2 separate regions of the Homo sapiens genome follow, and region 1 is linked to region 2. The links come from fine-mapping of genetic effects on plasma protein levels. A gene starts in region 2. The other region holds a variant in brackets. All regions are shown on one strand. Distances are from middle to middle.

Region 1 (15,885 bases), 110 kb after region 2:
CATGAAATGCTATTCATCTGAAGAATCCACGTGTCTGGAAGCCATGCCTCAAGTCTAGAATGACCAAGGCTTAAATTTACATCCAGTGGTGGTGGGAGTGGGACCAGGGCCTCTTCTCTCTTTTTCCTTTAGACTGTAGGACATCTGAAAGAATATCAAAGCAGTTGTCTACTAGTCTTCCCAGGCTTGGAGACACTGCTTCAGTCACCATCAGTTACTTCTATCATTCCAAAGTGTGCACTAAGAATTCCCCTCTATATGCTCCTAATTGTTTTGCTCCATATTTCACAGCTGCCCAAGCAAGTCATGCTCAGAGACCATTTGATTTCAGGAGCTTCTACTGCTCCCGGGACTGAGGACTGACTGCCCAGGGCTTTCCAGAGCCCCCACCACCAAGTCCATTCTGAGTTAAGGGTTAGGAATACTCTGAGCCATTGTTGTGATTGGTCTTCTCAGAGAGATCTCTGGACTGTCACCAGGCACCCTGAGGACACAGGAGAGAGTGACCAGAGTATTGATCACTGGTCATAGGAAGACGGATTTCCTCTTATTGTCCTTGTTCATGGACCCCTGGGCTGAAAGAAAGGAACAGAGACAGAGCAGGAAAGAGGAAGATCAGGAAGCAGGAACAGAGTCAGAGGAAAATTGCAGGCTTGATGGGAAGGGGCAGGCTTGGGGGGCTCTAGAGTTATTGATTTTTCAGCTTGATCAACTTTTACTTGTTAGGATGGAGTGACAATTTTCAAGCTCCTTACTTGCCAGACTGGGAGCTGGAAATCCTATTGTTTTTTACATGCATTTAACTTTAATCAAGTTACCATAACACCTCACTGACTCCAAAATAAGTTTCTATCTCAGCATGGCATTCTTTCTCCACGGACTGACCCACCCACCACTCAACCTTATCACTTCTTATGCTTTTCTAAGAAAATAGCATGGGACCTACAAAAGAGTAAAAAACTGTCAAGATTTTGAAGAATGCTCTATCCATTCCAGCCTTGCAGCCTCAAACATGCAAAAGTCAGCCACACGTGTTTGTTCTGTTGTGTGATTTAACCCTACATGTAGAAATGGAAATGGAAGAGAATATGACATGAGAAAACCAAAGGACATAGCAGTATTATATGTTCCTAAATGAAGCTGAGTTTATGTGTGTGTGTGCAGGAATGTGCCTTCACGTATAGCTCACAGGTATGCATGTGCATTTGTGTACCTATGTGTGTGCGTGTATGTGGGTTAGCATGCATGTGTATATGTGAGTGTGTCTGAGTATTCTTACCCCCAATGCTCCAAACATAACATTGATTAAAGTCCACAGTGAGTGAGCTGAGTTTGTGGGGTCCTCTGTAAAACAGAAGGAAAAATCCATTTTCAACGAGAGAGGGATGTTTGTGAGCTCCCCAAGAACACGCTGGTGGTCCTAGGGCAGCAGGATGGTAACCTCCAGGGTTCTTGACAACAACGGACCAGGGAAGCCAATAAAGGATCTGTCAGTGGTCTCCAGGGCCTGCAGGCAGTGCCTCTGGCAGGCCATGCTCTCTGGTCACTGGGAAGATGGACCCTTGAGAAGGTCACAGCCATCCTCTAGGCTCAGCTCCACCTTGGTGAGTGTCCCATAAGGTCAAGCCACCCTCACGGGATAGAATATGAGCTCTCCAAGCCAATTTCCAAGACCCTTGGGCTCTCCTTTTCTCAGGTACCTCCAGTCCCAGGAGTGGTGGGGGGAAGCAGCAGACCCCAGTATTCTGGCCTGGGAGTCACATAGCCTCTAGAGAGCTCACCAGAGCAGAGTAGTTTAGCAAAAGTCAACTTCCCATTCCCTTCAGGATCAGTTTGCCTATTGAGAAATGTTTCTGGGAAACCTATTTACCAAGTGGAATGGTTTCATACAAAATACTACGGGTATAGCTCTTCTAAAGATTTTTTCAATCCCTTAGGTATCTTTTTCTATTGGATATAATTTTAAGGAGTGCCCACAAATACATTTTGAACTAGTTTTTACTTATTTTTCTACTTACACTAAGTACTTATCCAACTTTTAGTATAACATATGCAAGTTATCAGACTTCATTAACCCTTGTTGAGTGGTCTAGCCTTTTTTGGGGTTAAAAAAATTATTTTCTGGGCCAGGTACAGTGAGTCATACCTGTATCCCAGCACTTTGGGAGGCCGAGGCAGGAGGATCACTTGAGCTCAGGAATTTGAGGCCAGCCTGGGCAACATAGGGAGACTCCATCTTTACAAAAAAAAAAATTAAAAATTAGTCAAGCAAGGTGACACATGCCTGTAGTCCCAGCTACTCAGGAGGCTGAGGTGGGAGGATCAGCTGAACCCAGAAAGTCAAGGCTGCAGTGAACTGTGATTGTGCCACTGCACTCCAGCCTGGGCAACAAAGCAAGACCCTGTCTCAAAAAATATATATTATTTTCTGTATGACATGGCTGTATTAAAAATAAATGAATAAAATGAGGAAAGAAATATATAGATTCATTTACACTTCTACCGTAGTTTTCATGACACCTAAATCACAGTGCCATTGCTGTGGAGTCCCTTGCTTGCATTTATAATCCAACTCGGCCTCTTATGAGCTGCCTGAGTTGAGTGATTTACAAAGCTTCTCTAAGTCTCCATTTCTCAGTTCTAAGTGTTTAGTGGCTCCCTCATTGGGTGTTTTGAAGATTAAATGAACTAACCCTTTCAAAGCACTTACAGCAGAGCCTGGTACACACTAAATAAATACTCAACTAATTCCAATTTAGGAAATACTTATTACCTACTGCTATACATCAAGCACTGTTCTAGGACTGGGGATATGGGAATACAAGGTAAACGAAGACCCTGTCCTCATAGAGCTTCCATTCTCATGGAAGGATGGAGACAAAAAAGTGAGCCATACGTCACATGGGGACAACTGCTACAGAGGGAAAGGGTGGTGGAGAGAGAGAAGGTGCACAGGGTTTGTGCTACAGCAACTCAGATAAGCTGGAACTGCATTTCTGAGGATCCACTTACCTCTATGGCTCTGTGTTGGGTTTGCAAGAGAAACTTTCATGAGATTTGGAAGGCAGAGGTGAAGTGGCAGGTGCGATGTTCTGAAGGTTAGTGTAGGTGCTAGGGTCTCTCAGGTGCATTGTTGCTCAACTCACCTTGTTGACATGGGCAGCACCTGCCTGTAGCTCCTCCTACTCAGCCTCCCTGAGTCCTGCCCAGCACATGTGCAGCTTTGCAGCCAAGCAGCAGAAAAGACAGAAATGAAGGCAGAGAGGCAGAGCTACAAGGTGCTCACAAATACCTATTTTCTTCTCTTCCTAGATGCTCAGGTAGACCCATCTTAGCCCATGCAGTGAGGGCAGAAGTGATGGGCACTGTTCCAGACCTGGCCTATAAACACACCCATGTGCCATACTTTCTCTTTTCTCATCCACTCCTGGAGGCAAAGAACTCTGAAGACCTGGAGGTCAGCAGAGCCACAGGACAGAAAGCCTGGGCCCCTGAATGGTCCTGCGGAGTCACCATCCATTAGACGAGTAAGAAATCAACTTTTACTCTCTGAGATTTGGAACTATACTGTTAAAGGAGCTAAGATTATCTTAGTTAAGATAGGCAGAAATCAAATAAATAGAGAAATATATGTGTGAAAGAGAGAAGAGGGAGTGAAGAAGAAACAAAATAAAATACTGCCCTTGAAAAAAAAAAAAAGAACAAGATATACAAATCTGTAGAAAGACTAATCAAGAGACAAGTTTAAAAGTGCAAAGAGAAAATAAAGAGAACAGGCCAGGCACATTGGCTCACGCCTGTAATCCCAGCACTTTGGGAGGCCGAGGTGGGTGGATCACTTGAGGTCAGGAATTTGAGACCAGCCTGGCCAACATGGTGAAACCCTGTCGCTACTAAAAACACAAAAAATCAGCCAGGCCTGGTGATGCACGCCTGCAATCCCAGCTACTCAGGAGGCTGAGGTGGGAGAATTGCTTGAACCCAAGAGACAGGGGAGGTTACAGTGAGCCAAGATTGCGCCACTGCACTCCAGCCTAGGCAACAGAGTGAGACTCTGTCTCAAAAGAAAAAAAGAAAAGAAAAGAGAACAAATGAGAAATACCTGAACACCCAAAAGAGACTTTCACAATAACAATACTATGAATAATCATACACTAATAAATTGAATAACTTAAATAAAATGGATACATTTCTGGAAGATATAAAATATTAAAATTGGTGTTGAGATTAAAAGCTTGACTAGAGCAACAACAATTCAAAAATCAACATCCAGTCATATAACCATCTCAGCTGCTAGAGAGGTGAGGGGAGGGCAACTTCAGGCACAGAAGAATTTTCAAGGTATAGATATTTCTTAATTCATACAATTTATTCCAGGAAATAGAAAAGAGGGGAGAAGCTGCTCATATAATTTCTGTGGCTAGAACAATATTAATACCAAAACCACACAAGGACCAAATAAGAATAATGGGTTATCAGCCCATTTTTATTTATGATCATAGATTCTGTAATCTAAGATCATCGTTCAGATTCTCAGGGAAAGATGGCAGATGGAACATACACCTTTATTTCTGTTCGCTCCTAAAACCCACAAAAATGAACATAAAGAAATGCAGGAAACATAGGAACGAGGGAAACTAGAAGGTAAAATAGCAAGAAAATTTGGGGAGCTGAAAAAAATATATAAGTAAGTGGGAAATGACTTAGAAGTGAGAAAACAGAACCTTTCATCAGAGTTGAGGAAGGCAGAAGTCAAGTCTTATTTACACAACAGTATTGCCAAGATGGCTGAGAAAGTGGAGGTGGTTTAGGGGAGTCCGATTAAGAAGAAATGGTAGAAAGTTGTTTAAGAAGCAATGAGGAACCCAGATCCCCTTGCCACTTTCTGTAGATGAGCGACCTTGACCCACCTTGGCAGACAACTGGGAATGAATGCCTTAGAGAGGTTGCAAAGAAGGCTGGGTTTCTGTGTGTGGTAGGGAAGGGGTGGGCAATAGGTATAGGTGAGGATGGTGACAATGTCCTGAAAACCATGGGATTATGTGAAGAACATGTACCAGAAGCTGAGAAACACTCCAGCCCTCTTCTCCTATTTGGATTCCAGAAAGTTGGCAGCCAGATCTTCTTCCTCCAGACAAGAGATGGGGTGAGTCTTCCCTGGGGATCCTGAGCAGCCCAAGAGAGAAGGCTGAATGATATTGACAAGGCACTTCCTCAAGCAAATGGCCAAGGAGTCACCCTCCTGTGAAACTCCCAGGGCACCAGCCCCACTGTGGGCTCACAGCATCCAATTATCTTTAGAATTTTGTTACCCAGGCCTGAGAAAAAGCTCTCAAGTGAAAGAGAAGAAAGAAACTAAACAGAGAATAGTGAAGGCAACTGGGAAGAAACAGAGACCACCTAAGGAACCATAAATAAAAACAGAAAACTTTTTCTCCAAGGGCTGTTTCCAAAACAGAGGGAGGCAGAGAGAGAATGAGAACAACAGAGAAATGGGAGAGAAAAAAAAAGAAAAAGACAACTGATCCAGGAGGTGAATGCTTGAATAAAAGGAGTTCTAGAAAGACAGAACATAGAAAACAGAGAGGGGAAAATCATGCATGAACTAATTCAAGAAATTTTCCTGTGAATTTCTAGATCGAAAAGGCCACTCACTGTGCGGAGCAAAGGGATGGAAATAGACACACTCCAAGGCTCATCCCTGTGACATTCCAGGACACCGAGAACAAAAAGAAAACGCTGATAAAGTGAAGACAACAGATCACATATTGCCATAGTTATCATAATTGCTCCTGACTTTTCAACAACAATAGGAGCAAGAAGGTAACATAGCAATGCCTTCAAAATCCTGAGGACAAATTGTTTCCAACTCAGAATTTTTTATATCAGTCAAACTGTCATGGTAAAACAGGCATTTTTAAATATAAAAGTTGTCAAAATGTATTTTCCATTCCCCCTTTCTCCCGTAGTTACTCAAGGATGGGTTCCACCAGTACAAAGGAGTAAACAAAGATCCAAGAATCAAGAAAACGTTGTAGAGGAGACAAAGAGAAGCCCCAGAAACATGAGGAAGAGACAGCTGTGTACCAACTGGTGGAGGCAGTGCATCCATACAGGGCAAAAAAAGGCTGCAGGCATGACTTTTTAGGAAGATGCTCAACAAAATACTTGCTGAGAAAAAAAAAAACAAAACTTAGAAATGCTGGTTCCAAAACATGTGCTTTTGTTTGTTTGTTTTTTCTTGTTCTGACTTTTAATTCATTACACCACTGCTCTCCAAGAAAAGGCTATCAATTATTCCCTTCCAACAATGCATAAGAATGACTTTTTCCCTACTTCTCCAGGACAGAATATAATTATCATTTATTTTAATCTTTTTTGAACTGTTAAAAAGATAAACTGAGGCACAGTAAAATTTTAAAGAGTTTTGGTGAGTTTTTTTTAGCATGAACAATTTATGAACTGAGCAGCTCCGAACCAGAAATAGTTTGGGAGCTCCACTGAGGAACACAAAGAGGAGACTTTTATAAGACAGACACAGAAGTAAAGCAAAGTATTTAATTGGTTACTGTTATACAATTGCTTTTTTTGGTCTCTCAACTTGGAAAGCCCCTCGTTATCTAAGTTTGTATAAATAGTAACTTCTGATTGGTTGAGCTTAAGTTCTGCTTTTAAAAATATA[T/G]ATATAGATATAGATATATATAGGCATTCACAAGAAATAGCTCAAGTTAAGTTTGGTTATGTTTGCAAATCAAGCAAGGTTTAGGTCACTTACAAATCATAACTTCTTTTGTCCCCTCTGGGATTCTTCAGGTCTGGTCTCCATTTTAATTTACTTTAACAATCCCACCGCGTTGGGTCACCCTCTCAGCAAGCTAAGAAGAAGGTGGTAGCATTCCTCTCAGTTACCACTAGTGAAATAGTCACTGGAACAAAGAGTCATGTAATCTTATCCTCAACAGTTGTATTGGGATATAAGATTACATGGCATCATTACCTGCATCATGGGCTTCAGTGGTAGGGTTGTTGAGTTCTTCAAGTCAATTAATGATGATGGCAATCATTTGATGTGTGAGTGCCTTCTGGAAAGCTTTGAAATCCTTGAGAGGATAAGATATAGTAGGATGGTAAACAAAATGACTACAGAGAGAATAATAGCCAAGGATTTTTAAATTCCCTGGAGCACAGATTCCCAGGAGCCAATATTTCACCAATAAAATAAATCAGTGGAGGAGGCAACACCTGTCTGATAAAAGACATATTTGTTCCTTAAGATCCTTTAAATTGGGCTCAACAATTTCTAATTTATTAATATAGAAACAATATTTTTTTTTACAAATAAGAGCCTCCTTGTTAAGTTGCTAAGGTATCAAGGACTTCTATTTTGGAGTACTATTGAGGTTAAATTGTTTATTTCAGATAGTATTGCTTGAAGGGAATTCAAGGTAGCATTCTATAAAAACAAAAGAAAAAAAAAAGGTTAACATTAGGAACAAATTATGATCTTAGTCTTTAAGTCCAGAGAGCAGCCTGTCAAGATTTCTAAATTTGAGTTTGAAGCATTTTTAGATGATGGAATGAGGATGGCAATTGCAACCTGATGGATTTTCCTGGCTTGCAGTTTGAATGTCTCTGGAAATATCATCAGGTGTTCCAGTGAATTCTCCAAGTGACCCACACAGCAGCAGCATGAAAATTTTCCATACATGGTCTGTTGTAGTAATTTTTCTGAATTTAAAGTCATCCAATTTCAGCTGGCAGGGCTTCGGAAAAAAGCAGTTTTAGTTTCTAGTGAAACTAGAAAATGTTAGGATTCAATCCAATTTACAAGGACATAACAAAGACCAGAATTTGATGATGGGTGCTATAGTTTTCTATTGAAATACAATCTTTTTTATGGTCATTCCAAATTTTTCCAAAAATAATCATGGTTAACTCTTCTTTTTGTGCAAAATCAGTAGTCTCATTAAACTTGATCTGATTATTTACATAAGTGCAACAAGAAAAGTGATTCTATGTATGCATATTTTTAAAATACATCATTTTGTCAAAGTTTTGATAATATCCAAGGGGCTTTATTGACTTTGTATAAGTCAATCTTAGTTATTTGTTCATTTTATTGTTTGTTTTACTATTTGTTAACAAGGAATCTCAGATTAGACCTTTAAAAACCTCTCTAGGCTAGGAGGCCAAGTTAAGGACTTACCCAATTATGTCTTGTTATAAGAACAGATTCTTATTGAACCTATGCAAATACCTATATTGCCATGAAAATAAGAATATTCAATAAGTGCTTCCAAATTATGGGGTGATCAGGTAGGGAGGAAAAAAACGTTTTCTTTTTGTTTACAAAAGTATATTTTATCAAATTGTTTTAAGTTATAGAAAAAAGTTTTCCTAAATCTAGAAAGCAAGACATTAAAGAACCAGCAATGTTTCAAACGAAAAGTTATAAAAATTATAATTATTCTCATCAGTTAATTTAGTCTCACATAATTAATTTTTGTTTTGCTTGATCTTGGGTTAGCAGATTTATAAATACATTACTTTTCCATTAGAGGTCTGGAAATTCTTACCTAGCCTTATAGTATGAGCTTAAAATTATCAGAAACCTGTACTCATCAGCCTTTATCATGAATCTCTTACAATTCTGTGTCATGCAACTGACAAGGGAGTTTGGTTGCTTTGGTAACATACGACATTTTAACATAATAATTAAAATTATGGATGATAACATTATACTAGTACATATCAGATTTCTAGGAATTTGACATAATTTCTGGAACACTCATCAATAACAAACATAACTTAAAGAAGGTTTAGCATCACCCATTATTTGACATTGCTTCTCATGCAATTTAACATATCAAATAAGCCTCACTAGTTTAACATGTCTGTTTTTACAAGAAGAGAAGATAAATTCTTTTGAGATATTCCAGGGACCCTTTTGGACACTCCCAAAGTTGGTTTGAGGTCAAAAAGACCTATATGGCATGGCCAGTTCTAGGGGTAAGGTTGTGTCCATGCCAGTGTGTGGCATATGGCGATGTTCAGCTAGCATGAGTCTGAATTAATTACCACACATAGGAGCCAGAGTAAAGTGTTCCCAGGCCATCTACCCCCAACCAATGTCCCCACTTATTACTGCAACCTCTTACATCTTCTATAACATGCTCCAAAAAGTACGCACAACAGTAATCCCCCAAATGCCAAATACCACATTATTTCACGTTGAACAGTCTTGTTAGTGCATGAGTTCGTGTGCAGCACACGTGGTATTGTACACAAATTATATTTCCCTTCTACACTGTAATGAACATGGAGTGTGATGTAAATAACCATGGAATACTGAGTTAAAGCTAGAATTTTATCTAAATTAGACCTGAGTTTGTCGTGCCCCCAGGTGCCTGACAGAACTAAACAGTGAGAACCCCAGAACCCTTTCCAATGGGGAACGTCAGAGGCACCACAGCCACGGACCCTCCACTCTCTCCTGCACTCATTGCACCTTGACTGTCTTCCTTGGTGCTTGCAGACGTTTGTCATAGTGGATTTTTTTAATCAGATCGTGAATTTTGGGCAAACTTTCTACAGTTCGTGGGAGTAAATGTTTGAATGGTTTGAGTTCAGACCGTGAGACAGATCTGCATTTTCCATTCTGAAGAGGTTACACATGAGCTAGCAGATGGGATCGAATTTCAATTATACGGAAACAAGGTAGAAAAGAAGGGACCTCAGGCAAACGAGTAAAAGCAAGTTTGCAACTTAGAGTTTACAGTGGCTGGTCACAGGAGTATCTGACCCTGGAATTCCCAAACTTCTCCGCACCTTAGAATTACCTGAGGAATATTTTTAAAATGCCAAAGCCCAGGCCACACCCGGACCAATTAAATTAGGCGCACTGGGGTGGAATCCGGCATCTGCATTTCTGAAGCTCCCTAGATGATCCCAGCATGCAGAGGAGTCTGAGAATGACTAGTCTAATTTCATTTCCACAATATGCTTGTGAAGCGGTCGCCACTATCCCCTGTGATTCCCTTAAGGTTCCCCCCAGTGAATTTGTGGCATCAGGAGCCCAGCCCAGCACTCCTTCCACTGCACGTGCCGCTGTCCTGGAGGACAGGAAGCAGAGCCAGGGTGCTGCGTACGTGGCTCTTCAGAGGGCTCTTCAGTGTGCCTCCAAGGGCGCACAGCCGAGTTGAGCCGTCTGATTACGCTCCGGGGTGATGGACAGGCTGCCCCTGCCCCCTGCTGGCCAGAGGCTGCTATTGCAGCCAGCGTGCACACGCGTGCGCGCATCTTCAGCCACCTGCAGTTTCTCTGATTCTTCCCTGGTCTCCTCTCTGCAGTGTCGCCAGAACACCTTCGCACACTCTATTCTTTGTGGCCCTTCTGACTTTCTCTTTGCCGTGTGACAGGGGAGTCCTCCCTAACCAGCAGACAGTGAAGGTGGAGTCCACGTTTCTCGGCCTCCACGCATAGCGAGTCTCAGACCCCGCAAGGCTGCAGACAGTGCTGTGTAAGTGGGCCTTCAGTCCTGTGGGGAGCCCAGGTTGAATCCCCAGGAATAGAAGCTCCAGAGGAAGGTCCCCAATCAGTCCGTGGTCCCCAATCCTGAGAAGGGTTGCCTTTTCTGGGAGGAGCCTGGGTCTCATCGCTATGCGGGAACAGGGCTCTGGGAGGTGTCCAGGAAATGTGAGACCGGAAGTCGCCGTCAGGGAACGGAGTAGTCTGTGGCCCTGTTAGAGGAAACAGCCCTGGGGGGTCCCCAATTGCTTCTAGAATCTATTCTGTTTACTCTTCTAGGGAATACCTGTAACTTCTTTCCTTGGAACCAAGATTTAGCACATGAGAAGAATCTGGAAGAAGCTGAGCCCACAAGGGTCCCAGGAGGGCATTCTACCTGCCCACTGACCGTCTCAGCATGCTACACCCTCGAGGGAACTCAGGTTCCCTGTCTGTAAAATGCAGATTCTCTCCTATGAAATCTCTGAGGTGAATAGCTCTGGATAAACTTCAGTGGCCTTCTTTTAGATGTTTTTTGTTTTTGTTTTTTGTGGGTTTTTTTTCCCCTTGGGTCTTCCTGCCTGGGGCCCTCTGCCCTGGGTCTCCTGCAGAGGTTCCCACCAGCTCAGGAAAACACTCAAGGGTGAGTGTCTCAGAGCTCAATAGGCCTGAGTTCCTTTCCCAATACCTCCTACCACTCCCTGGACATACACACTAGCACATACATGCACACATGTGTGTGCAATCAAGCTAATCAGAGTGGGGCCTTGATTGAGTCAGAGCTCTTTGCACTCCTCCACATGTCCTCTACAGTGTAGCACTAATTCTGTGTCCTCCGGGGTCAGGGCCAGGTGCAGCAGGTGCAACCCACATTGCAGGTGAAACCTGTGAGTGAAGGAGCCTGGTGGGGGCTCTTGCTGTCATCTAGGTGGAAGGAGATGAAGATCAGGCAGAGGAGGCCGAAAAAGATCTGGAGGGTTTGGTGACAAAGGAAAAGATCTGGAGGGTCTGTGACAATGGATTTGAAAGTTCTTTGTCACTTTCAAGTTCTACACAAATTTGGGACAGACATCATATGATTCTAGCACCATTGTCTCAGATTTCATAGCTGTCAAAATTTTACAATATTCTACAAGAAGCAAATAAAATTACCTTGCATCTTTAAGTTTAGAATTTTTCTTTATATTTTTTTTCCATTTTGATCATTGTTAGGTTTGAGCCCCAGCCGAGGTCCAAGGGAGCAGGTGGACAGGAGGGCAGGGAGCTGGAAGAATACTCAAGAGACAGCAGGTAGATGAGACATGGCTTTATTCAGCAGCTCACTCACACTGTCGGTGCTGCATTTATGCACCTCACAAACAATAGTGGCTCCAAGCCAGGCGATGAGCCTCTCCATGTTATGGCTACATAGCTGTGTTTACATTATACACCAGACTGTGTGCCTGTGCTACAGTCCCGCTGAGTCATGCGGGATGTTTACCTCAGCCTATGCCTATGTGGCTGCAGCTCAGCCATGTTCCTTACAATCATCATAAGGGTTTAAAGCATTGTTTGGGGAAACCCAGGCAATCTTTTTTTTTTTTTTTAGACAAAATCTCACTCTGTCACCCAGGCTAGAGTGCAGTGGTACAATCTCAGCTCACTGCAACCTCTGCCTTGTGGGTTCAAGTGATTCTCCCGCCTCAGCCTCCCAAGTAGCTGGGATTACAGGCATGCACCACCATGCCCAGCTAATTTTTGTATTTTTAGTAGAGACGGGGTTTCACCATGTTGATCAGGCTGGTCTCGAACCTCTGACCTCTGGTGATCCACCCGCCTCGGCCTCCCAAAGTGCTGGGATTACAGGTGTGAGCCACTGCGCCCAGCCCCAGGTAATCATTTTTTGAGCTGAACTTGCCCTTTACTTTGACTCTGCAAGTGTGCTACACTTGTAGCTCCTTGGCAATGAGGTTGTGAAAACAAGTCCAACACACACAGGATAAGGATCCATCATTCTTGCATATTTAGCTTAATACCAGGTGAGGCTCTCCACTCCTCTCTCATGCTCATTTCCCTCTCCAGGCTGCCATCTGCTAAGGTATGCGGTCCCCTCTAGGCCCAGGTCACGGAGCCCGTGCTTCACCTGCTGGTGTCTCCCCTCACCCAGCCTCCAGACCCCACCAGGCCAGCCGTGACTGTCACCACCTGATCATCTTCACTCTTAGACACAAGAAAAAACTTCCAGGTTTTGCATTTCAGGAGTTATGACTTTGGGATCTCTATCCCTTGCTTAAGAAACCCATGAATTTATTTTTTATAATTTTTACCATGCCAGTGTGGGTGGGAGAGTAAAATTCCCCACCTCCCAAGGACATGTTTCAGGAAATAAGGAAACGATACCAGCTATTATCAGATCCTGACATTTCACTGGGGCCCTGGCCTGATCTTGGGGACAGGAGACAGGTGCACACCAGCCCAGGCCTTAAGTCCACTCTTCTTACTTCATTCAACTCCTCTCTTTCTTCTCCTCCAGCTCAGAGAATCTTTATTTGGTCTAGGGTGTTGAGGGTAAGACTAGAAGAGCTGTTTCGGTTCGCACACATATGGGAAAATTTCTACTCAATGTGTTGAGCTACAATTTACTTAAATACATATATCCATATATCAATCATCATTATCAAGATACAGAATGTTTGCATTACACCAGGAAGTTCTTTCACATGCCTTTACAATTAATACACTTCTCCCAAATGTCTTTCAACACGTGAACAGATAAACAGATAGCAGCACATCACACGATGGTATATTACTCAGCAGTAAAAAGGAATGGTCTATGATACACCAACAACATGAATTAATCTCCAAAACCTTAGACCAAGCAAAAGATGACACATATAAAATAATCTGCACTGTATGATTCCATGTATATGAAAATTTGTTACAGGCAAAGATCTTCTCCAGTGTTTTCGTTTGTTTGTTTTGTTTTGTTTTGTGTTTGTGTGTTTGTTTGTTTTGAGACGCTGTCTCGCACAGTCGCCCAGGCTGGAGTGCAATGGCGCAGCTCACTGCAACCTCTGCCTCCCGGGCTCATATGATACTCTTGCCTCAGCCTCCTGAGTAGCTGGGATTACAGGCGCACACCACCACACCGGGCTAATTTTTTGTATTTTTAGTAGAGATGGGGTTTCACTATGTTGGCCAGGCTGGTCTTGAACTTCTGACCTCATGATCCGCCCGCCTCAGCCTCTCAAAGTGCTGGGATTACAGGCTTGAGCCACCATGCTCGGCCATCCAGTGTTTTTATCTAAAAGTTTTCTAGTTTGAACTTTCACATTTATGACTATAATTCATTTAGAATTAAGTTTTCTGTATGGATAACTAGTTGTCCTAGCACCACTTGTTGAAAACACTTTGCTTTTGTCCGTTGAATTGCTTTGGTGGCTTTGTTAAAAATCAGTTGCCCGTATATGTGTGGGTCTATTTCTGGACTATCTAATCTGTTCTATTTATTTAACTGTCTGTCCTTACTACAGTAGCACACTGTCTTCATTACTGTAATTTTATAGTAAGTCCTGAAATCAGAGGTGAGTTATCCAGCTTTGTACTTCTTTTTCCCATTGTTTTGGCTACTCTGTGCCCTGTGCATGTAAGTTTCAGAGTCCTCTTGTCAATTTCAACAAAAATGCCTACTAGGTTTGTGTCTGTGACGTAACCTAGTATTGAGTTTATACATCAGTTTGACAAGAATTAACATCTTAACAATATTGAGTCTCCTAGTTCAGGAACATGGTATTTCTCTCCATTTATTTAGATTTTCTTTAATTTATCTTATCTTCCTGGTGTAATGCAAACATTCTATATCTTGATAATGATGATTGATACGTGGATATATGTATTTAAGTAAATTGTAGCTCAAAATTAAGTAGAAATTTTCTTATATGTGTGTGAACCGACAGAAACAGCTCTTCTAGTCTTACCCTTAACACCCTAGACTAAATAAAGATTTTAATTTAATTTATCTCATCAATATTTTATAGTTTTGAATGTATAGGTCTTGCACATATTTTGTTAAATTCATCCCTAAGCATTTAATGGTTTAGGATGTTGTTTTAGGTGTCATTTTAAAAGTTTTCATTTGTCTATGGTACACTGCAATTATATAGATAGTCCATTTGAGTTTTCTATATTGACCTTGTACCCTGAAACACTGCTAAATTTCAGTATTGGCTGTTATAGCTTTTTGTGTAGATCGCTTAGGATTTAATGTGTATACAATCATGTTGTCTATGAATAAAGACAATGTTCCTTCTTCTTTACAATATGTATGCCCTTTGTTTCCCTTTATTGCCTTATCAAGTAATTAAATCTCCAGAACAATATTAAAGAAAAGTGCTGAGAGAGATAGCCCTGCCTTTTCTCCTAACTTAGATGGAAATGATGGGGTCTTTCATCATAAAAGGTAACTCTGACTATAGGTATTTTGCAGATACCCTTTATTAGGAAAAGGAAGTTCCTTTATTTTCCTAGTTTGCTTATAGTTCTAATTTTTCTAATGTTTTCCTACATTTTTTGATATGACCTTATATTTTGTTTTCTTTTTAATATCATGAATTACACTGATTGATTTTTCAAATGTTAATCCAACCTGGAGTTCCTGGGATAAACCCCATCTGGCCATGTGTATTACCTTTTTTATATACTGCTAAATTCAGTACACGAATACTGTGTTCAGGATGTTCATGAGGGACATTGGTCTATCATTTTCCTTTCTTCTAATTCCTTTTCCTGCCTTTTGTATCAGGCTGATTTGAGCCTTATAAAATGAATTGAGATATGTTTCTAGTTTTCTTAAAGAGTTTAAGTTCAATATTAGCTTTTTCTTAAATATTTATGGCATTTTGTCTTGCTAAAGACTATATTTCTCTTGAAGTTGGAGGCCAAGATGACTTCACTGGTAAATTCTATCAAATATTTCTATGTCTGAAATGGTTATTTTTGTTATAATGGATTATCGTTTATTCGAAATGTTTAACTTAAAATTGACTATCACATTACTCTATTTCTGCATAGGGTTTACTTTTATTATAAGTTTATTAGGTTTTCTTTACCTGCTTATTAATTTTCTGTCTCCTGTCTGCCTTCTCCATCCTACCAAACACCCTTCTCTGAATATGAATATAAGCTCCAAGAGTGAAGGAAACGTGCCCGAGCTCTCCATCTATTCCCTGTGTCTGGAATGGCAGACTCAATAAGCATTTGTTGAATGAATTGTAGGAATGAATGAAGAAACTCCTTTTGTTCTCTTGGTTTTCAGCTAATATGCTTGAGTTTTCGGAAGCTGGAAGAAACAAGGCATGGATTCTCCTCTAGAACCATGGGGACTGTGCAGCCCTGCCAACA
Region 2 (15,885 bases):
TTGGGCACTAAGTGCTGGTGCCACTCAACCCCAGGCCCCACAGGTACCTGATGGAGGGCATGGAGGGTAGTCTGTTGAGGAGAGATCTGCTGGTGAGGCAGAGCCCTGTGGTGGGCGATCTGGTGCTGAGGTCCCCAGACTTAGTGGAGATGGATTCTGGGCCAGCAGAGGAGTCCCTGGCATTGCTGGGAGACGCGGTCACTGTCTGGGACCCCATGGTCCTCCTGGGTCCCTGGCTGGTGGTGCTGGTAGCAGTGAAGCTGTAGCCTGTCTTGGAGGCAGGTCTGGTGGAGGCTAAGAGCCTAGGCAAGGTGATGAGTCCTGGGGTGAACACCATCACACCAGTGGTAAAAGGGGCATCAGGGCCTGAGGTAGGGGCTTGGCCAGTTGTGACAGTTCCACTCTTGAGGATGTTGTCCAGATGTGTGAAAGGAATGTTCCTCTCAGTTTGGGGAGCTGAAAGACAGAAAGGGAGGAACGTTAGATTGACTTGGGTGCCTCAGTGCTGGGAGCAGATCCTGGCAACCCACACAGTTGCCTGGAAGCCTGGATGGGGGCCTGTCCTCTTCTCTTCTCCTTGACCTTGGGCCTAGGATTCTGGCTGCTGAGTGATCAGATGTGTATTTGTTCAGAAAGTGATATCAGGAGGAAGGAAGTAGGTGTACTGAAGAAGGGAGAGACTACCACAATTTCTTTTTCCCTCCCGTGTCAGGCCACCTGTTCCCTCTCCATCCCCATCTCTCTCTTTTCACTTTCCAGGCCCTCTTCGTTCCTATGGGCCAAAAAGATTTCCATAAAATAATGTCAAACAAGAACTTTTCCAGCTATTCCATAATTGACAAGTAGGGTCCAGAGATGAGGACAAGGAGGCATCAAGGTCCTCAAATTCCAAAGAAAGCTGCAGTCAGTTGGGGTCAGACACTTTCCTTGGGGGCTCACTAAGAGATATCAAACTGGTCCTGCTACACTCACCCATCAACCCAGCCCTTTTCCATCCCATTTTCTAGAAGAAGCCTGGGTTTTGGACAGTGGATGAGGAGGGAGGTGGAGGAGCTGTGAGGCATCAACCTAGCAGTGAGTGATGGTTTTATCTCAGCATGGAATGTGAAAATTGGAGACAGAGGCTGCTACATCCCACTACTGTGCATGGAAAGGGCAATTTCCTAAGGGCCAAATTGTCATCATGGAAGGTGGCTGAGCTTGAGCCATTTTTCTGGAGAAGGGGACCCAGAACAAGCAGCATTGGTGAGGATGGGAATAGAGGAAGACGCTCACCTGGAGTCAGAGCTCCCACAACATCATACTCAGCAGTGGGGACACCCCCAAAGAACTCTTCAGAGAATTCACACATCAGTGCCTTGGGAGAGTATATGGACACTCAGAGAGGATCTCAAAGGGCTGGCAGACAAGCAATGACATCCAACAGGGAAAGCATTCCTACAACACTCAGTTAAGCCACATAACCATCTCCCCCTCCCTCATTCCTGCATCAACACACTAAGAGGGCCAAGAAGAGGTAACCAAGAGGAACCCCGCCTTCTTCACAGCCCAAGATGCAGGATGGGGAGCTGGGCAGCCAGTAACTTTCCTTCTCCACTTTAGATGCCTTGGACCATAAAACCTGGTCTTCAGGGGGCAGTGGAATATCCTATACTGCTAGATGACCAGAGTTTGTAGTTGGAATAAGGATTTTTTTTATTTCCTAATAACAGAAAAGGTCTGCAAAGTTGAAATCTTCACAAATTGTCCTTAAGAGGTGGAAAGTGAGATGTGACATAACATGATTAGAGGAAATGATGAGAAAAAATAAAAGCATATAATGTTTAATGTTTCTATCCCTAAATATTAAGACTTCAGTGAACCAGTTTCGACTTCCCTGGGTCTCACTCAGAACTGGAGAGGGGAGCAATGAGATTTGGCTCCACATTTTAGCGACAGCATTTTCCCTAGTTCAGACCCTGTGGAAGATGGAGATGCAATTGGGTTAGGTGAACGGGGAAGGATGGATAGTAAATTGCATAATAACTGGCTGCCTTTTCCGGGGTCTTTAGCTGAGTCCTTTCCCTTTTCTATCTAATAAATGTGGAAGGACCCCACGGCTTGGTGCTCCACTCTTTTTTGCCTACACTCAAGGGAGAGCTTTTAGATCTTGATATTTTTAAGAACTTTATTGAGATATAACTCACATCCCATTTATAGTATAAAGCTCAGTGGTTCTTTATTATGCTTACAAAGTTATGCAACCATCATCACAGTGAGTTTCAGAACACCTTCATCATCTCCAAAAGAAACCCCTTACTGTTTATCTATGATTCTGTATCCCCTTTTCCTTCCCCCAGCCCTAAGCAACCACTAATCTACTTTCTGTGTCTGTAGATTTCTCTAATTCCCTGGACTTTAAACACTATCTTTATAGAGATACTTTCAAATACATACCCCAGCTCTGACCTCTCACCCTAGCTCCAGGCAGGTATATCACTGCTGGCTGCATTTCCCCACTTGGGGTTCTAGGAGGTATCTTAAACTTAACATGACAAAAGAGAGCTCTTGATTTTTCTCCTCCAAATTAGCTCCTCTTTCAGATTTACCCTACGCTATCAATGGTACCATCATCCACCTGCTGATCAAATAGAAAACCTTGGATCATCCATGATTCCTCCTTTTGGCTCACCCCTCAACTGAGCAAATCCTGTCCTACCTTCAAAACATATGAGCTGAACAGAAAGTCTGAAAAACATAGATTTGAGCCCATTCACATCTCTCTGCCACTAGTGCCTACATTGTACTCCAGGCCACTGTTGTTTCCAGCCAGATGCCCACAATGGCCTCTCTACCCGTGTTCATACCATTCACAATCCATCCTCAACAAGTGGCCACTACATTCTTAAAAACAAGTCATGACAGCTCTCTGAGCTCTCTAGTAGCTTCCTCTTATACCTAAATTCCAACTTATGGTCTTCAGGGCTGCTTGACTCTCCAACCTCCTCATTCATTGCCTCACACTCCATATAGAGTGACTAAATAAGCCTTATACAAGCCAAGCTCCTTCTGACCTCAGGACCTTTGCATATTCAGCTCTTGCGACAAAGTGCTCTTCAAAGCACCCAGATTTCAACAGGGCTGGAAAATGCTCACCATTCAGGGCTCTGCTTGGTGTTGTCTGCTAAGGGAGGTGTTCTCTGACCCCCAGTACTTCAGTAGCTCCCCCACCACCGAGTCGCTTACTAGTTCATGAACACCTCTAGTTATTTGCAATTATTTGAAACAGTTCCTAGTTTCTTATGAACACCTCTTGTTTTCTGCAATTATTTGTCTGGATAATAAGTGTGCCTGTCATCTCCCATAGTGCAGGATTGTGAGTGTTTTTGCTCACTGTCTCCTTAGAGCCTAGAATAGTGCCTGCCCCATAATAGGGGCTCAATGAATTATGTTGAAGCAATGAGTGAATAAAACACAGCACAGACAGTGCCAAGTTTGAACCTTATCTCAGCCACCTGCTAGCTCTGGGACCCCGGACAAGCTCAGAGTCACACTGGGTTTTCAGGTCTCATTATCTTCATCTGTAAAATGGTGACAATAGTGCCACGAATAGTGCCATAAAGGCACTCTGAAAACACTACAGTGCAACATGACCACTGATGGATTATTATCCTTATTATCTCTGATGTTAGTGGAGTGTGGGGCAGGAGGGACTCCCTCCACCCGTCCCAGAGCCACTGCAGCCTGCTCACCTGGAGACACATCCAGCTGGAAGCCCATCAAGGGGTACAGGATCCCAGAGGTGTTGCGCATGCACCAGTATCGGCCTGAGTCCTGGAGCTTGAGGGCCACCATGGTGATGTTGACCACCTTGGCCTGGGCATCGTCCTGCAGCAAGTAGCGGGGCCCTTTCACCCAGACTCGGGCAAAGCCAGGCTCACACTTCTTCTTCCTGATTTTGCACCAAACCTTGCCCTCCACGCGGTTTTTGTAGCCCTTATAGGAGCACTGCACAGACAGAGTCTCCCCTTCAAGGAGCCTCACTTTTGTGTATACACTGTCAGCAGAGGGGCCTGTGGAGACAATACTTATTGAATAAGGTCTGGCAAGAGGAGAGGAAGAAGACATCATGAAAGTTGAAGATCATGGTGAAGGGTAGAGTGGATATTGTCCTGCTGTCACAGAACCCACAGATTGAGGGGGAAATACAGCCCCGCCTTCAGGGAGCTTGCCCCAATCTGAAGGGAGGTGAATGGGCCCTGAAAACAGCTAGCTTCCAGTATTACAGTGGAGACACAACCCCCGCTCTCAGGGAGCTTTCAGTCTGATGGAGGAGGCAGGTATATCCCTCAGTGAGTCCCCAGTCTAATGGAGGAAACGCAGCATTTACACTCGGAGCTCCATCAGACACAGCCCCTTTCCTCATGGTATTTTCTAGTCTGATGGGAAAGTGACAAGCTCTGTCTTCAGGGATTCCCAGGGAATTCATTTTTGTTTTGTTTTGTTTTGTTTTGTTTTGTTTTTGAGACGGAGTCTCGCTCTGTTGCCCAGGCTGGAGTGCAGTGGCACGATCTCAGCTCACTGTAACCTCCGCCTCCTGGGTTCAAACTATTCTCCTGCCTCAGCCTCCTGAGTAGCTGGGACTACAGGTGCCTGCCACCACGTCCGGCTAATTTTTTGTATTTTTAGTAGAGACGGGATTTCACCATGTTAGCCAGGATGGTCTCAATCTCTTGACTTCGTGATCCACCTGCCTCGGCCTCCCAAAGTGCTGGGATTGCAGGCGTGAGCCACTGTGCCCGGCATCCCAGGGAATTCTTGTGGGAAAAACCCAGGTCATGCCCTCAGTGAGACAGATGCAGAGACACAAACACAGGTCATTAAGTTGTGAAATTTCAGTGCCCAACTAACTAGGTAGATAAGAAAATCTAGTATTTGAAAATATGATTAACAGTTATTTATTTCACAAATAGGTTCACTTAGTCCTCTTTAAATAATAACTCTCCTTAGTTCATTCCATCTGGTGTTTAGTTTTAAAATATTCTAGTTACATAAAACCCATAGATCAAGCCTGTCTAAATATACATGTAAACAAACTCCCAATGGAGTGTGAACCACAGGATTCTACAATTATTCACTTTCCACCTGCAATATCTTTCTCTCTATGCTGAGGAGTAAGATGTGGTCCAAGCCTTCATAATCCACAGTCTGGTAGAGACAGAGCAGAACTGGGGTGTGCAGGGTGACTCAGGGGACAGAGAGAGGGAGAAAGCTGCCTTGGGCTCCCTCCACCCCTCTGCCTGCCTTAAGCTCAGCTGACTCTTCTGATAATTTCACCCCAGAGTCTTCCAAAAAAACCACATATAAAAAGACTCTCCCCCATAGTAGAGAACAGAGAGCACACATTTTGGAGTCAAAATAAACAAGGGTTGAAACCCTGTTTCTACCACTTAGTGGTGTGATTAGGTCACCTGTTTGATACAGAAATATCAAAACAGACACTTGACTGATACAGAAATATCTCTGTTTCTTTATCAGTCAAGTGAGAATAGCACCACACCCCTCACAGGTTGCTGTGAGAATTCTGCCCCAGGTCAGTGCTTTGCACACAGTGCATGCTCAACTCATGCTTCCTTTTCCCACATGCTGGGGCCTCCCAGTTCCCCCAATGGAACCCAGAGCTGTGACAGTCAAGGGCCCAGAATCCAGGACATCTGTCCCACCAGAATCCAGGATATCCGTCCCAAGTCCCAGCCAGCAGCCACTAGAGCTGAGGCTCTGTGTGAAGCAGCACCCTCTCTAAGCATCCCTCTGTCCCTTGCAAACTAAACAGAATGATCCAACTTCATTATTTGGTGGATGAGCCCAGGATTTCTTAGCACAAGAGAGACCCCTTTCTGCCCTGGCAGTGGGAAGCTGTTTCTCTACCCTCTGGGAGGTGCAGAGTTGGGTGACCTTGGGATGGGTCTCCAGGGCAATGTCTTCATGTGTGCCTACACCTCCCACCCCTCTCACAGGCAGTGGTGAGTTTTGCCAACCCCCACCATGCCCAGAACTGAACAGGAAGTGGTAACTTGGTTGCCATGGCAGCGAGAGGGGCAGGAATGGGTGAGGTTCCTCAAGGAGCATTGGTATCTGTGAGGTGGGAAAGGCATTCACACACTGGTCCCTTCAGGACAGAGGCAGGGACAGGATGTGGCATCAGCATTTCAAGAAAAATGTTCAAATTCAGTTCAAAACACACATGATGCAATGATTGCTGTCATAACTAAGCAGGGCTTCCTGACAGAGGCCAAGCAGAGAAAGCTATTTGTGTGAGGAAATTGAGGGCTCTGCTTTAAAGCCTGAGGAAGCCTAGCAGATAAAGGAGCCAATGCAGAGAGGGTCCAGAGCTTTATCTTGGCTTGGGAGGCCTGGGTTAGCTTCGCCTGGGGCCTGATATTAGGGTAAAGAGCTAAGTCAGCCCTAATCTCCTCCTTCCCCAACCCACAAAACACTAAACAAGAAAACTGCTGGTAAGGAGGGTAAGAAAAAGGCCCTGAGCTCCTGCCTCTGTACCCACTCCCTCCTCCACAAGTCAGCCCCTTCTCCCCTCACCTGAGACGCAACCCTGTGGCCACAGCAGCAGCAGCAGCAGGAAGGCTGGGGCCATGGTTCCATCCAGCTGGGCAGTGTCAGGCCTGGAGATCCAAGGTGAGGGCCCACCCGACACAGGATGTGCCACCTGGGCCTGCCAGGGAAGGACCCGGGGTTCTAAAAGTGAAGCTGCCCATTTAGGGAAGTGAGGCAGTGTGGGACCCACTGCCCCCAGCCAACCGCAGGGATTCATTGAGCCTATTATGAGGGCGGTGCTGGCAGCTGTTTCCGCCCTTTTCCTCGGAACTTCAGGCAGGTGTGGCTGCTCCACCCAGTCTGGGGCCCCAAGCCGGGAGGACTCACAGTCAGAGGGCTCCCCGCCCTCCCCAACCTCCCCCAGAAACTGGTCCCTAGGATCCAGCAAGGGGGCTGGGGTGAGGCTTCTGGAACGTCAGGTATAGACCTTCCTGGAATCTTCTGGGCTCAGAGACCCAGGGGTGCGGGCTCTTAGGCTGAGATGGAGCATCTCAGACCCTAGTTTCTTACATATATACATTCACAGGGAAGTTCTTATAAACTCTCATTCATTCATTCATTGCAGATTCTTTCTGTTCCTTCCTCTCTCTCTCTCCCAGGCTCCTGGCTGCTCAGAACAGTCACTTGTGTTCACTGTTGCAAATAACCTCTTACAGGCTCACTTGAAATCTTACTTTTGTCAAGCGGGAAAAATGCAAATTGTTAAGACTCAGGGCATAAATTTTGGGTTGAGGGAGGGGTTCCTGTACTCTCACACACAGGTGTGCATGCACATGCACTCACACTCACAGTCTCACTTTGTCTTTTATTCACTTTCACACACACACACACACGCCCATGCACACAGTCTCACACACACCCCAGCAGCCTCTCCTTTTCCCTATCCATACGTCTCCTCTCTCTGTCCCTCTCCCTGCCTCTCCTCCTGTCGACTCTACTCACCATCAGCTCCCTCTAGACTCCTAGTCCCTCGTGCAGGCTTCCTACAGCCTCCGCAGTACTTCCCCTCACCCACCTCATCTCAAGACCCCCTTCCTCCCCTGCCTCCAGCCTACGTCAGCACGCAGGCAAGTGCCCTCCACTTCCTCCTGCTCAATGCTATCTCGCCTGTACAGCCACCAGCTCCAGTGGAAATGACCCAGCACTAGGCCCAAGACCACACCCTTCACTTACCCCAAGGCCTAGAATCAGAAGCATCAATTTTTGATGTCCGGTACCTGTGTCATCTGCTCCTTCAGTGTGTGGGGACCCAGCTGGACTCCCGTGATTATGTATGCTCCCCCTACTCACTAGTGCCATGTTTCTACTCCTTAGATGGGACTGTCAAAAGGTAAACTGAGGCACAATAAAATTTTAAACAGATTATTTCAGCAAACAACAATTCATGAATCAGGCAGCTCCAAACAGAAGAGGTTGAGGAGCTCCACTGGGGGAATGCAAGGGGAAGACTCCTACAGGACAAGTAAACTGAAGAAAATATTTAATTAGTTATAGTTATATAGTTCCCTTATTTGGCCTATCCTGTTGGAAAGACCCTAGTTAATTATATAAGTTTCTTTTGATTGGTTGAGCTTAAGTTCTATTTTTCCTTAATATACACATTTACAAGAAATAGCTCGTGTTAAGTTTCACTGATATTTGCAAATCAAGCAAAGTTGAGGTCACTTATGAGGCCTAACTGTTTTTTTAATTTTTGCTCAGGGACTCTTCAGGCCTGGTCTCCATTTTCATTAATTTTAACAGGACTCAGAGCAAAAAGTCCTCAAGCTTGCATGGCCACAATCTTAAATTGACCTTGAAGCCCCAAGCTCCAAGCAAAGAAGTCTATCTCGGCTGACCCTAAGCTTTTGTAGTCTCTCAACTCATTCACTCACTCATTAATTCATTCATTCATTTGTTCATTCCCACAACCTCATTGCTATGCATGGGGCTAGGTAGGCACTGGGGGCGTAGGAATGAGACACGATTGTCACTTGAGACCTCTCAGCTCACAGACGTGTTTTGTTTTCCTTATTCACCCTTCCTTTTTCAATGTTTCTCACCCAGTCCTCAGAACTTCCTGAGCTCCCTGAGTTCAGGGGCCATCTCCCCTCCCCAGCACACACAGTAAGTTCCTCCATCCCTTCCCCCATCAGAACAGTAAGTTGCTTCAGGAGTGGGGGATTTATCTCTTGTGGGGACTTTATGCGCTTGGAATCCATGATTCTATGAAACTGATACAGTGCGCCCAGCACTGAGCCAATCATCGTCTAAAGTGTGACCCTTGGGATCACTGTGCTGATGAGGGTAGAAAGAATCAAACATTCATTCGCTGATCGAGGAAGTATGCACTGGATTCAATCTTTCTTAAGAGAAATTTGGAAGCATTGGTCAAAATCATTAAAAATACGTATACATTAGACTTTTACATCTATCATTTGATTTAATACAGCAGTGTATTTTGTCTTTATATTTATTTTTCCCATTTAAAAATTAAGGCCTAATTTACATACAGTACTATTCACCCTTTTCAGTGACGAGTTCTGGGAGTTCTAGAGACTTGTATCCAATGCCGTAATGGAGACAGAGAAGAGTGCCATCATCCCGAAAAGCTTTCCTCTGCTCCTTGTTAGTCATCCCTTCAGTCCCAGACAAACACTGATCTGGTGGGGTTTTTTCCTGTCATTTCTCTCTTTCCAGAATGGAAAAGTGAAGCACTTTATGTTGATTTATTCTGGTGAAGTCCAATATATAATTTTTATGAATCAATTTTTATGTCATATCTAATAAATCTTTGCTTAACCCAAGGTCACAATGACTTTTTTCAACAATTCTGTGAGCTATAATTCACATAATATAAAACTGACCCATCTAAAGCATACAATTCAGTGGTTTTCAATATATTCACTGAGTTGTACAACTAACACCAATTTTGCAGGATTTCCCCACCCAAAGAAACCCCATGCCCGTTAGCAGGCACTCCCTGGATCCGTTTACTGCAGACTTGGTGGCTTAAAACAGTATTAAGTTATTGTCTCGCCATTCTGAAGGCAGAAGTCTGAAGTCAGTTCACACTGTATTGAGATGAAGATGTCGACAGGGCTGCAGTCTCTCCAGAGACACTAGGGAAAAATTTGTTCCTTGCCTTTCCAGCTTCAGGTAGCTGCCAGCATTCTTTGGTTTGGGGCTGTTTTACTCCAATCTTCAAGGCCAGCATCTTCAGTCTCCCTCTGCTCCATCTTCCCATCACTTTCTCCTCTTTGTGTTCAAATCCCACTCTGACTCTCTTACATAAGGATACATGTGATTGCATTTAGTTCCCATCTACGTAATCCAGGATAATCTCACCATCTCAAGATGTTTAACTCACTCATATCAGCAAAGATCATTTTTTTTTTGTTTTTTGCCATATAAGGGTAACAATCACAGGTTCCAGGGATTAGGACACAGATATCTTTTAAGAGACCATTTATCAGCTTACCACAGTCCCCATTCCTACAGTCCCAGGCAACCACTAATATTTTTGTCTTTCTAGACAAAAATATCTTCAATCAAAAATGCCTTTATCAATTCTGGATATGTCATAAAAACATAATTGAACAATATGTGTTCCTTGTGACTGGATTCTTTCATTTGGCATGTTTTCCAGGTTTGTCCATGTTGTAGCTGTACTTGTGCTATACGTTGTATTAATACATCATTCCTTTTAAAGGCTGAATAATATTCCACTGAATGGATATATATGTTTACCATTTATCAGTTGACAAATATTTTATTTGTTTCCACTGTTCAACTATTATAAGCAGTGTTACTATGACTATTCATGTACAAGTTTTTGTGTGGACATACGTTTTCATTTCTCTTGAGTACATAACCAATAGTAGAACTACTGGGTCATATGGCAACTCTATGTTTAACATTTTCAGGAACTACCAATAGTTTTCCAAAGTGGCTGCAAATTTTACACCCTCTCCAGCAATGTATGAGTTCTCATTTCTCTACAATCTCTCCAATACTTGTATTGGCTTTCTGTTTACAGCCATCCAGTGAATGTACTTAAGTTTTGAATTGTAGTTACCTAATGACTAATGATATTGAGCATCTTCATCTTGAGCATGCACAATTTGCTCATTTGTATACCCTTGGAAAAATATTTATTCAATTGTGTTGTTTGTCTTTTACAGCATTTGAACAATGTTGTGCCACATTTTTCTGGCTTCAATTGTTTCAGATAAGAAATTCACTACAATTAGAATTGGTATTCCTTTATAGATAATTATTTCTCTCTGGCCATTTTTACGATATTTTCTTTGTCTTTACTTCTCAGAAGGCTATCTATGCTGTGTCTTGGTGTGTATTTCTTTGGGCTTATTATATTTGGGATAAAATCAGATTCTTGTATTTGTAACTTTAGGTCTTTGGGCAGATTTGATTACTTTAGACGTTTCTTTGAATACATTTTCAGTCTCACATTTTTTCTCCTTTCCTTCTGGGACTCTGATGATGCAAAGGTTAGCTCTTATGTTAATGTCCCGCAGATAGCTGACGTTCTGGTCATTTATTTTCAGTCTGTTTTCTCTCTGATCAGACTGAGTAAATTTTCTCAGTCTGCCTTCCAGTTAACTAATTACATCCTCTGTCATCTCCACTCTCCTACGGAGTCCACGTAGTCAGCTTTTAATTTTGGTTATTGTCGTTTTTAGTTCCCACATATTCTATTGTCATTCTGTTCCCAGAAGAAGAAAAAAGAGTAAATGGAGCAGAAGAACTATTAATACTTGAAAAAATGGTACCGAGGATTTTTCAGAATTAGACAAATATCTAAGACATCAAATTGAATGTATTCAGAGAGTTCCAAATAGAATGGATACTTAAATAGCCCATATTAAGCATACTATAATAAAAATTCAAAGAGAAAATTATAAAAATGTTCCAGAGATAAAATAGGTCAGTAAAGATGAATAACCATCAGACTGTTATCAGACATTTCCATAGCAACACTGGGAAGGTAAGAAAACAATGAAATATGTTCAAAATTTTGAAGAAGTATATGTCTTTTACATGTTAACTTATGACATAAAATTTGCCACCCACTTGAAAATTGTGGTTAAGGGAATTACGACAATTTTGAGGCCAAGGATGTTAAGATAAAATATTTAAAAGTTATAACTAAATGCTAGCTCTTAGCATCTGATTGAGGAAGACCTATTTTTGTTTAGTCCACTTTTATCCCACTACCCATGTTCTTTAAGTGAAGCTCAGTATTTCCATACTGTAAGTGAACACGTCCCAATCTGCTGCAGTTGCATAAGTTCAGTAAATCGAGAAAAGATTGGGTTCAGCCACATATGACTGAAAACCAAACAGCAGTGGCTTCGACACACAACTGTTTATTTTTAGGTATCATTTTAATTATGAAAATTCCCAAGCATGCACAAAAGTATCTCACAAAAAAGAGATAATCGGCTGGGCACGGTGGCTCATGCCTGTAATCCCTGCACTTTGGGAGGCTGAGGCAGGTGGATCACCTGAGGTCAGGAGTTTGAGACCAGCCTGACCAACATGATGAAACCCCATCTCTACTAAAAATACAAAAGGTTAGCTGGGCGTGGTCGTGGGTGCCTGTAATCCCAGGTACTCCAGAGGCTGAAGCAGGAGAATCACTTGAACCTGGGAGGCGGAGGTTGCAATGAGCCACGATCGCACCACTGCTCTCCAGCCTGGGTAACAAGAGCAAAACTCAGACTCGAAAAAAATTTTTTTAAAAAGATAATCATACTTCTAGCCCCCATGTAGCATCACTCAGCTACATTTACTCTTGCCTTCCATTTTTTTTTATTGGCAATACTATTCCATAGGTTGTGCTGTGTACTTCACATAGACTCACAGAAAATAATCTCTAGTGTCTAGATTCGTGTTTCGGGCAACACAAGCTGACAGCATTACTTAGACATCTGAGATCGTAAAACTCAGCTGATGCCACCTGGGTATAAGTCCTAAAGGAAATCTCACCTGATTCTACCAGAGAACATGATGGACAATATTCCTCACAGCATTGTTTGCAATATGAAGAAGTGGAGGCAAAACAGCACATGCACCCTGGGTTCAGAATGATACACTGTGGGATATGTACACAATGGAATAAGCACTGAAAAGAAGTGGGCTCTGTATATGTACCCGGGAAGGAGCAAAACGAATATATGAAAAATGTCTATCACAATTTCTTATATGTAAGTTAAAATACAGTCACAGAAAAAAAAGCTGCAGGCTTTACAAGAATATATTCAAATTTAAGGTTACATATCACATGCATTAGAGTGGTTGCCTTGGAGGGGAAGGCAAGTGGAAATAGGGAATGAGGATTAAAAAAATAAAGAAAGCAAAAGTTGTGCCTCTCACAGATAGGTGATGGTCATGTGGAAGGAGCTGAGATATACATGAAGAGACTTCTGTTCGATGCCTATATTAGTCCCTTTTCATACTGCTATGAAGAAATACCTGATGCTGGGTAATTTATAAAGAAAAAGAGGTTTGATGGACTCACAGTTCCACATAGCTAGGTAGGCCTCACAATCATGGCAGAAGGTGAAGAAGGAGCAAAGGCACATCTTACATGGTGGCAGAGAGCATGTACAGGGGAACTGGCCTTTATAAAACCATCAGATCTTATGAGACTTAATCATTATCAGGAGAAAAGGAAGGGAAAACTTGCCTCCATGATTCAATTACTTCCCACCAGGTCCCTCCCAACACATGGGGATTATGAGAGCTACAATTCAAGATGAGACTTGGGTGGGGACACAACCAAACCATATCAATGCCCCTCCCCAGAAAGAGCAAAAGAAAATGGTACTCTCTCTCTCTCTCTTTTTTTTTTTTTTTTTTTTGGAGACGGAGTTTTGCTCTTTTTGCCCATGCTGGAGTGCAATGGCGTGATCTCAGCTCACCACAACCTCTGCCTCCCAGGTTCAAGCGATTCTCCTGCCTCAGCCTCCCAAGTAGCTGGGATTACAGGCATGTGCCAGCACGCCCAGCTAATTTTGTATTTTTAGTACAGATGGGGTTTCTCCATGTTGGTCTGGCTGGTCTCGAAATCCCGACCTCAGGTGATCCACCCACCGTGGCCTCCCAAAGTGCTGGGATTACAGGCATGAACCACTGCAGCCGGCCAGAAAATGGTACTTTCTTTATGGTGGCCTTTTTCAGGGCTGGCATTCAGCTGCTATGCAGTGGTACCCCAAATTGGTTGTTCATGGTGGACCCCCATTTTGAGTAGTCAATCCCAGTCTCGCTAGATGTTACCTGGTTGGAAAATGACTGTGCCTTTTCTTGCTTCACAGATGTGTGCTCCTCTTCTGTTCCCCAAAACATTTATCTTTCACCCACCATCAAATATTGTTAGTTCAACTTGATTTTCTCTTTTAGGCTATGAATCTCCTCACACGTTAAACAAACAGAATTTTGACCCCTGATGATGAGATTCCATTGAATGTTCTGGGTCCTGTTTTAGGCTGCTGAATCCACTGCTCTTGTCATTTAAGGCATCTGATTTTTTCTTTTACTTCTAGGACTTCCTCAGTTTCCAGTCTGCTGATTACAGCCTTTCTTAGTTTCAATTTTATTATTTATTTTTAAGTCATTTCTTTCTCATTTAGGGTGGGAGGGGAGGAGGGTGAGGGGATACATCTGCTTTCTTGCTTAGTTGCCTCTGACACATTTCAGTTCAGAGGTTGAATTTAATCAAGCACAAGAGGAAATTGATAGGACTCTCGGGTAGACCACTAACAAACAGGGAAAATGTGAGGCATCCTGGAGACCTGCTGAGGTGGGGCTGAGAGAACCACGGAGTGCTGGAGAGGAGCCCGGGCACAGCTGAAGATGCTGAGCTGAGCGTTGACCCGGATGCAGAAACCCCCACCCCAGGTCTTTCCAATGGCGAAAGTCAGGGCAGGGGAAGTAGATCTAAGAGGGGTCAGTGCAGGGGTGAGGGGTCACCACCAGGGAGATCAGGGGCTGAAAGTTCTCTCCAATAGGCTTAGTGCTGGCCTTTCCTCACAGACAAATGGGGGGCAACGCTTAGGGCAGCTCCCAATAGCTGGGCAGGGGAAGAACTGGGATTCATCCTGGATCCATGCTGTGACTCATGCACCCAAGGGTCCTGGGGCAAGGCTGGGCTGATACAATCAGAAACCTCCATCACTGCTGTCCTGAAATGTGGCAAGAGAAGGAACGTCATGAATGGAAGTGATACTTTCCCTGACCCTCTTTTCTGCCTCTTTGTCTCACCCTGTGCCTGTTACCTGTTCCTCCTCTTTCCCTCCCTTCTCCCTGTCACCTGCTTCCTTCCCTGCCCCTTCCTGTCTCCTAAACCTTCTACCCAGGCACTCTCAGCTTTGTCCTCCTGGCCTTGTTCCTCTCAGGACAAAGACAGAGGCAGAGTCCTGGAATGGGACTCCCAGAAAGCCTCTGTCTTTTTCTAAGGTTTGTGTCTGCAGGAAGGCAGAGATTGCAAGGAAACACATGTTTAAATTGGACTCAGCTGTCATTTTTCCTGCCTCTGTGATCTGGCTTCTTTTTCCTAGCCATCTTTCTAGGAACAGAGTCTGGCCCCAGCTCCATTGCCCCCCAGGCCAAACCCAGGCCCCACTCACCTGTGGCACCTGCAGGTCAGGAACACAAACAGGACTCACAGCATCAGGCCCTTGGCCAGGAGGAGTCCACACAACACAGAGACCAGGAGTTTGGGGCCAGCTGAGCCAAGGCAGATGGGGGCACTTGATTTCCTGCAGTGAGGAAGGAGAAAGGAGGATGGACTTGGGCCAGGATGTCACCTGCTGCTGCTGTGTCCCTTAGCCAGGCCCCTTGTGGCTGGAGATGTTTGTATAGAGGCCCGCCCTGAACTGACTATGACACAGGGGTATGGGGCAGGAGCCACAGAGGTCTCTGGGACTGAGAGGAGACCTAGTCAGAAGGAACTTCAAAGTCTTGAATGGAGGAAAAAGCTGGCCAGGGGAAGAACAAGGGATTGGAGTTCAGGGAAGGGGAGGGATAGAGCCGGGGCAGTAGGAACTCTCCCTAACTAGGTCAGGTAGGACAGGACTATCAGGAGCCTCTTAGGAATCAGAGCAAAGGGCATCTTTAAGACCGGCCAAGATATCACACCTGAAGGAATGAGGCCCAGACACTGCACAGGACCTGACTAGACCCTTAGAAGCAGTGACAGAGCACAGACCTAGACCTCCTGTCTGCTGGTGCCAGCGGTCCTCCCAGGTCCCCTCTGTGTGGCGCCTACTCCTGGCCTGCCTATCTCTGATT

Which allele goes with the higher level. Alleles are on the strand shown, and positions count from the first base shown. The strength of an association depends on the size of the effect and on how common the allele is.
As copies of G replace T in region 1, the plasma level of the protein whose gene starts at base 6,772 in region 2 goes down (moderate association).

The links. PIP is the chance, under the fine-mapping model, that this variant and not a neighbour inherited with it causes the effect. Protein levels are from antibody-based Olink assays in UK Biobank. Linkage for the fine-mapping came from a reference panel and not from the study's own genotypes, which makes the PIPs less certain.
Region 1: its variant is fine-mapped to the plasma level of the TREML2 protein (UK Biobank, PIP above 0.99).

Annotation. Positions count from the first base shown.
Region 1 is chr6:41,308,772-41,324,656 of GRCh38, forward strand. No RefSeq gene overlaps it. Among named protein-coding and RNA genes, the nearest start is that of NCR2, 19 kb to the right of the region's middle. RefSeq lists a silencer at 10,151-10,220 and an enhancer at 10,429-10,970. The variant T/G (reference allele first, on the strand shown) is at 6,683.
Region 2 is chr6:41,194,378-41,210,262 of GRCh38, forward strand. TREML2 (triggering receptor expressed on myeloid cells like 2) reads right to left here and starts at 6,772. Exons shown (of 5, transcript NM_024807.4): 1 at 6,577-6,772; 2 at 3,732-4,052; 3 at 48-456. The coding sequence starts at 6,631. It also overlaps the pseudogene TREML3P. RefSeq lists enhancers at 6,991-7,060, 14,116-14,225.